Homo sapiens: one gene and its partner. The protein of the gene in region 2 purifies or fractionates together with the protein of the main gene of each other region. This does not show direct contact. Each region holds a gene or a part of one and is shown on either strand. Other genes may lie near its edges. The genes, in order: EPHX1 and SHISA2.

Region 1 (3,803 bases), on a different chromosome or scaffold from region 2:
GAGGCGGAGGTTGCAGTGAGCCAAGATCACACCACTGCACTCCAGCCTGGGGAACACAGCAAGACTCTGTCTCAAAAAAACAAAAAAAAGAAAGAAAGAAAATATACTTGGGAATGTGAGGATTTTGTGGTTGAGTGAAGAAAGGTGGCCCAGACAGGAGATTACTCAGAACTCAAAGGTTCACCGCAGCTGTCCTTGATGAGCTGGTGGCTGCGGCAAATACGCCATCAGATTGGGATGTTGAGGCAGACTGCTAGCAATGTTCTCTCCTTCTTCCTTAGCAAAGGATTTTTAATTTTAGTTGGAGAAGACCAGCCAAACACTTGACATTTCTTGGCCCCCTGGCAGCTAAGTATGACAGAGTGATTAAGTGCGGACAAAGAGTTATAAATGTATTAGAGCAGAGCCACCTGGGGCCCAGACAGTACCTTGTGTCAAAATTTTCTCCAGTGCATCTGAAATCGCACTGTGATCCTGTCCCCCTAAACTTTGTCTTCTCTTGGTGTTCCCTCCCTCAGTAACTGACATTACCCGCCCTGCTACTGCCAAGCCAAAAACCCAGGCAACGTCCTTGAAACCCCTCTCCTTCACTCCGCCACAGATATCAGTAAGTTCTGGCAGCTGAACTTCCAAAGTACATCTCAAATCCATCTCCAACCCAGCCCAGGTTCCTGTGGCTCTCCCCTGGACTACTACCCTGCCCGGTCCACTCACATCTGCTCTACCCCTTCCAACACAATGGCCACTCTGAAGCCACAGCAATCTTTTTAAAACATTTTTTTTTTTTTTAGATGGAGTCTCTCTCTGTCCCCAGGCTGGAGTGCAGTGGCACGATCTCGGCTCACTGCAACCTCCGCCCTGGTTCAAGCAAGTCTCCTGCCTCAGTCTCCTGAGTAGCGGGGACTACAGGCGCATGCCACCATGCCCAGATAATTTTTGTATTTTTTTTTTTTTTTTTTTTTGAGACGGAGTCTCGCTCTGTCGCCCAGGCTGGAGTGCAGTGGCGCAATCTCGGCTCACTGCAAGCTCCGCCTCCCGGGTTCACGCCATTCTCCTGCCTCAGCCTCCCAAGTAGCTGGGACTACAGGCGCCCGCCACTACGCCCGGCTAATTTTTTGTATTTTTAGCAGAGATGGGGTTTCACCATATTGGCCAGGATGGTCTCAATCTCCTGACCTCGTGATCCGCCCGCCTCCGCCTCCCAAAGTGCTGGGATTACAGGCGTGAGCCACCATACAAACCTTTTTTTTTTTTTTTTTTTTAATGGAGACAGGTTCTCACTATATTGCCCAGGCTGGTCTCAAACTCCTGGGCTCAAGTGATCCTCCTGCTTTAGCCTCCCAAATAGCTGGATTACAGGCATGAGCCAGGCCAGAGTGATCTTTTGGAAATGCAAATCTGATCATGTATATCCCATCCCCTGCGAAACCCTTAAAGAGCTTCCCATTGTCCTTGGGTTAGTGTGGCCTTCAAGGCCTGTGTGATCTCACCACTCCCCTAGCCCCTCAGAGTGCTACTGGTATCAATATTATGGAGAAACAGTTTACTTGAAAGCTAAGTGAGAGTTTTAGGGCTGGGATCTCACGCTGCCCCCCGATCTTTCAGTTTTGTGCTCACCATGCTGTCTTACTGTGGGGCTTTATGAAGGCGAATCCCTCTGTCGAAAAGCTATTCCCTCCCCTTCCCACCTCCCTAACTTCTATCCACCTTTCAGATTTCAGACTGACTGTCCCTCCTCTGGGTAGCCTCTCCTGACCTATCCCAGCAAGGCAGATCTCTCAGTCCTAGCCTTCGTCGAGCTCACATTTGTCAGGGTGATTATGTGACTGACAGCTGGACGGAAGCTCCTGTAGGCCACTGACCATGTCTGCTTTGGCTCCCATCTGGACTCTCAGTGCCTGGCATTCTAGTAGAAGCTTAATTATTTGTTGAATGAATGAATGAATTTAAAAATTCTTTGAATGAGAGCATAGAAAATTAATCAGAACTTTTGAACAAGAAGAGCTGAATTCCCCTTGAGGAATAATAAATATAACCTACTTAGCCTAGTTGGTAGAGACAGACCATAAGATGCAGGAAGAGGGCTGAGTAGGTGGCATGAGGCACTATAACGCCCCCTGACCCCAAAGAAGACTGGAGAACCAGTATCCTAGGCGCACTACAAATATCAGGGTTTTGGGTCTAAAAAGATGGGGTCAGACTCAGATCCGGCCACACAAAGTAAAGGGCAGGTCTACCGCCTGCCCAAAGACTCCCCTCCCCCAACCCAAGCAAGCAGTCAGAACCTCACCACAAGAAAGTGCTCCTAAAATCGCAGTAAAGTGCTAGCCGGCCATGACTCAGCACTTGCCATGTGCCCGGCCTTGGCTAAGTGCATTGCAGGGCAGAATGCCCAAGTATTTTTCCAGAACAAAGGCCATGAGGTGGACCCAGCCCTGCGACAGTTGGGCAGGCCTGGCTCTGACTGTGTTTCTCTAATAGTGACTGAGACTCACAGCAGCGTGAAAAGCCAGTGCTTCTCCTGGGGGAAGTCTGCCACTTTGGGGAGGAAAGTGTGGGGGCAGAGAGGGTAAGGGAAAAACTATGGCATGACCTGCCCCTCAGATGCCAGGCCAGAGAGGTAGGTGGGCTTGGAGGGTCTGCTGCTTCTGCAGGCCTGGTCCCAAGCCTGCCCCCATACTGCCCTCCCCAGCACCCCAGCCTCATCACTCCTCCCTGGGGAAGGCGAAGGGAACATCCAGTGGAAAGGGAAAAACGGATGGCTTCCCTCCCATTCCTGGCCTGCCTGCCAAGCGGACGCAGGATGGGAGCCTGGGAGCGTTCCTGCTGTGAACTCCCTGTCAGCAGCTACCCAAGCCTTGGGGCTCCCAGGGGCTTCCCAAAAGCCATCCTGAAGCTCCCAGCCCCACTCCCTTGGCTGGCCCAAGAGTGACGGAGGCAAACCCTGGGGGGAACTCCCAGCTTCTCCCTCAGCCATTGTCCCTGAACCCCAGGGACCCCTGGAGACTCAGGATGGAAGAGGCCGGATGCAGGCAAGCTGGGATTGTGCACCAGGCCAATGGCCGTGTTTATCTCTGTGCAAGCGCCGGAGCCAAGCCCTGGGAAAACAGCTTAGAGCCAGAAACCAAGGGAAAGGAAAAATGCAGTTTACAAGCAGGAAAAAAAAAGCTGGGGGAGAGTAAAAGAGCAGTAAAAAGTGTCAGGAGACAGCCTTCTTGGGGGCAGGAGTGCTGTTCTGGGGCATATCGCCCTCTGTGTGGGAGGGAATTCCCTCCACCTCCATGCTATCTACATGTCTGGAGAGATAGAAAGAAAACAATTTGGGATTGGCACTGGGATGCCAATGTGGTTGAGGGAGCCCCGAGCCAGCCCGCGGGCAGTTAGGCCCTCACTGCCTGCTTTGCTGCCTGGCCCTGCTGCCTGCCAGCCATGTAGCCTCAGGTCAGTGACTCCACTTCTCCAGGCCTCCGTGGCCCCATCTGCTGTGGAGGGTCTGGAGAGGGGAAGGGGAAGGCCACGCGGGTGGGCTGGCCAAATCCTGTGCACCTTCGGAGAGGGGACGGCTACTTCCACACTCTTTAAAGGCCACACAAACTTTAAGTTACAGAACTCAAGAAGACCGAGAGATGCCCCACATGCTGCAGGGCTCATGAGCTCTTGGCCTGGAGTTTCATTTGAGGTCCCATTCCATCTCACATTCTGCCAATTAAAATTAGAGCTGTTGAGTTGCTTCCATTGGTTCTAAATTACCAGAGAAAAAACTCAAGCAGAACCCAGTTCACCACCTATAAAGAAAAAGCATT
Region 2 (4,287 bases):
GAAACTAGCTGAAACCAGCCTCAGTCCACATAATGAGTTTTGGGGAGAAATAAGTGTTCTCTTTCCAGGATTTTTAATTGGAAATGTAAATAACTACACAGGGATAAGGAATGTAACGCTACTATAAGCCCCCCGGCAGGCTTAATTAGGCATGTTGCCCTTCACTGCAGAAGAAAAGTGAAAGAAATACAATTTTTAGGAAAAAAACGTTTAAAAGTAGCATGAAGAAGGCATCCATGCACAACACAGGGCGTCATGAGAAGTCTCGTCCTGAGAAGTCCCGACTAATCCAAAGCCATCCCAACTTTTTGGAGACCATTAATGAGCCCAATCTAGCAGACATCTCACTGTAGCAGTTCGGGGTCTGGCTCCCTTCTCTGGGCTTTCTTCCATGGCCACACAGTCTGCGAGACTGAGCTTGCGTTTTAAGACTGCGCTGGTTCTGGAATTACGCTCTCTTCAGATTCAAGACAGCAGAACAATAGGAGTAGCATGCTAATAAAATGCTTGACTGCGAAAGGGAACGGCACTGAAAAGAGCTGTCTCTCACGAGGTCCTGGGAGGCAGCTCTATAAACACAAACTACGCTGTGCCAAAGCTCAAGCAGCCCGAACCCAGGCTCAGGATGCTAGCGAAAAGCCTCCCAGGTAAACACAACGGGCCCACAAAGAGGAGGAGCCGCCCCCTCGGGGACACGTTTGCCATTTTACCTCTACACCTCCCCTCCCCCGAAATAAATAACACACACACACACACACACACACACACACACACACACGGAGTGACTGGTGTAGACACCCCAGGGAGGCATTCCGGAAGGTTTCTGAAGAGTGAAGTGCAACCTACCAAATTCTTTCACGGGTTTACTTTCCAACTCTGGCTTTGGCAATTTGAAAGAAAAAAAAAATCAAAGCCACAAAGAGCAAGGCTGGGCACTGCTCCGATGTTACACCTACTAAGTCTGACGTGGTAAGGAAAACAGTCCAGAAGCCCCACAGGCGGGCCGCTGCAGGGGAGAGGGGCCGCCGCGTGGAGAAGATGGGAATCCGCGGCGTCTGGCACGGGGCAGCAGCCCCGGGAAAGCCCTGAGGAGCTGCCTTCCTTTCGGGGAGCCTTCAGGGGAGCACCGCTGCCAGGCCCTCACGGGTGGGGGCGCACCCTCGCCGTCTCCTTGGGTACCCCTAAGACATGAAGCCCTATGGAGACAGGAGACGCCAGAGGGGCCCGGAGGACCCTGGTCAGAAGGAATATGGGGGCTGTCTGTGGCCCACACTGCCTTAGGAGTGTGATTTTGTTCGGAAAATTAACTCTAAGCCACCCTTTGGCTGACAGATGGAGAAACTGAGGCCCGTGAGGGTGAATTAGGGACCCACACCGACCAAATAATAAGCCAGAAGGCAGACTCCGCCTCCTGGTCCTAGGCCCTTTCCTGAATTTCCCCCCTTCAAACTCCCAGGTCCCTGACGTCCAGGCAACGCCAACCGTCCTCCCTTTCGCGCTGGGCGCAGGCCGCCCTACCTGCCGAGCCGTCGGGGCCGTCTTTGTCCGCCCGGCCAGGCTCGCCAGCGCCCTGCTGGCGGTCATTGTCGCAGCCGCCCTGGTCCAGGCGCGCCTCGGCGCTGGAGCAGCAGTAGCGCAACGCGCAGCTGCCGCAGCAGATGGTGGCGTCGCCGCCGTCGAAGCGCTCGGGACACTGGAAGCCGATGCGCCAGACGCCCTGCGCGTCCAGCCAGCCGTGGCAGTACTCGCCGCTGGCCCTCGCCCCCGCCGCCAGCAGCGCAGCCAGCAGCAGCTGCAGGAGCGAAGCGGCGTTCCAGGATGAGGAGACGGACGAGCGGCGAGCGCCCCACATGGCACCACCCTGGGCGCGGACAGCGCGTCTCCAGAGAGCGCAGGACGGTCTCCGAGAAGTCGTGGCCCCGGCGACCCCCGGGCCTCGTCACTGACTGTCCCGCGGCGCTTTCCGCGCGGGCCACTCCCCTCTGCCGCGACGCCCAGGAGGCGACGACGCCGGGCCCTAGGTCCAGGAGCTCCTAAGCCATCCCCGTCCTCAGCCGGTGGCCCGGTCCCCTTAGGGACTGCCTTATGAGTTGCACTCGCTGATGGAAATCTCGGGATGCAGTCAGAAGGCCCCCGGGGCTGTCGTCCGGAAGCCTCTGGAGGTTTCACTGGCAACCGGACCCTCCCTGAGCATCCCCGAAGGGATGCTCACTCGAGCCGAATGACCGCTGGGCGCGCCGCCGCGGACCTGGAGCCAGGGCTCTGCGCAGGGTTTAAGCCTCAGGGTCCCGCGCGCGAATCAGGGCCCGTCTCCCCTCCTTTATTCCCTCCTCGGGCGGGTAGAAGGGGCGAAGGCGGGCAGTGCACGCAAGGCTCTGGGCAGCAAGTGACGCAGCCGGCCGCGCTCAGCCTCCTCTGCCCCGAACTTGGTCCGCATGGCTCCGGCCGGGCCGCCCGGGCAGCCCACGGGGGTGCAGCCCCGACGCTCCACTCGGCGGGGCCGACGGCCAATCTTCCCAGCACGTCGCCGAGGGAGCGCTCCTGACCCCGGGAACGTCCAGGACGCAGGCGAGGGTCCTGCGCGCCCCCAGCCGCAGTCCCGGGAGCCTGCCCAGCTGGCGGCGGCCGCGGCTGCTGCTGGGCGCGGATCCAGGCGGGCGGCTCGCCCCGGTTCCCCTTCTCCGCCTCCCCGGCTGCAGCGCGGTCCCACAGGAGCCCGGCAGCCTCCGGCCGGCTCTCCCTCTCCCGGTCGCTGCCTCGCCCTCGGGAGGTGTGCGCACCGATGGAAGCCTCCCACGGAAGTTTCTTTCCTCCGGGCTACGGGAGAAGCCGAGCGCAGCAGCCGCCCACAGCCTCGCCTCGCCCCGCCCGGCGCCAGACCAGCTCCGACTCCGCTCGCTGCCGCGCTGAGCCGCGCTCTTATAGAGGCCGGCGGCTCCCCGGCGCGCATGCGCGCTGCGCGGCTCCCCCCCACCCCCGACCTCAGGGACGCCCGCGGGCGCCGGGCAGCCCCTCACTTTCCTACCCCGGGCAAGGAGAAAGGTGTGGCCAAGGGCGGGGTCTGCCTGCTGGAATAGGCGCGGGAGGAAACCCAACCTAAGCAATCCAGGCCTCGCTAACACAAATAACAATAATAACGGAAGAAACTCAACTTGCTTTGTGAAGATCTTTGGCATTCAACATTCGGTTCGATTCTGCAAACTTCTCAAGGGATTATGATTACTTTCCACTCTGCAGATCATAAAATCGCCACTCAGATGAACTCTCTCGGCTTCCAGCAGCTGATGTCCTGGCCACGGTTGGTCCCAGGCCCTGTGCAGGAAGAGCACCGATGTTTGTGGCAGGGTTCACACGCCTAGGGCTGTGTTTGGTGGACTGGAGGCCTCCACCACAAGGTGGAACGGAGAGAGTTCAGCAAAGATGTCACACATTCGGCCACGGTGTGGATGATCTGTGTCCCTTTTTCTTTCTATATTTGGGTGTGGTGATTTATCGGATTCCAGCAGGAAAGTGCCTCCGTCCAACATGTGGCCTTAGTGGTTTAGACAGCTGCAGTCAGGAAGAAAACAAGGTTCAGACAGACCAGAAATTCAGCTTTGATGAAGGAGAAATTAATAGCTTCTCTCTTGCAGAAGCTGGAACAACAGGTGCTGATGTTATTAAAGCAGCAGTGCTTATTTTTAAAGGAACGAATGCCCCTTCCCACACCGTCTGGGAGTCAGCAGACCTGAATTCTAGACCCAGCCCTACTAGCAGGGAATCACTGCGTTTTTCTGGTCTCAGTTTCTTCATCTATAAAGTGGAGCATAGGATGTGACGATCACTAAGGTCCCTTTCAAGTCCATGACTTCAGAACACAGGCAGTTTTATTCACAGCAAAGACACTCAGGTTCAAGCAGCCATTGGATGCTTGTGTATGCCTGGTTAATGTGAAGATTCAGACATTGTTGATTATTCTTCCACTTGCCCCAACAATGTCAAATCCAAGAAAAAAAACCCTACCCTATGTCCCTGCTCCCCAACACACACCTTATTCTTTTCACTAAACCTCTCTCCAAGCATTGCACTTTGTTTTCTTGCAGTTTTTTGGTTGTGTATCGTTTTAAGCTACACAAAATTATATACTTTAAATGCACTATTCACCAAATGTCTTAAGCTAGTAAGCTAAAAAAAATTTCAATGTCAAGAAATCATTCATTCAAGAAATACACGCCATGCACTTACAGTGTACTGTGCTCTGTGCTGGGTACTGGGACTCATCAAGAAGCCAGACAGCATGGCCATTTC

Evidence for each region.
Region 1: the proteins of SHISA2 (region 2) and EPHX1 purify together in Homo sapiens (affinity purification with mass spectrometry; one large-scale study listed by BioGRID and IntAct). This does not show direct contact.

The regions. Positions count from the first base shown.
Region 1 is NC_000001.11:225,816,386-225,820,188, reverse strand, and holds part of EPHX1 (epoxide hydrolase 1), read right to left. Parts: intron 1-3,803. UniProt on the Homo sapiens protein: Biotransformation enzyme that catalyzes the hydrolysis of arene and aliphatic epoxides to less reactive and more water soluble dihydrodiols by the trans addition of water.
Region 2 is NC_000013.11:26,049,124-26,053,410, forward strand, and holds the start of SHISA2 (protein shisa-2 homolog precursor), read right to left. Parts: upstream 2,894-4,287; 5' UTR 1,853-2,893; coding exon 1,519-1,852; intron 1-1,518. UniProt on the Homo sapiens protein: Plays an essential role in the maturation of presomitic mesoderm cells by individual attenuation of both FGF and WNT signaling.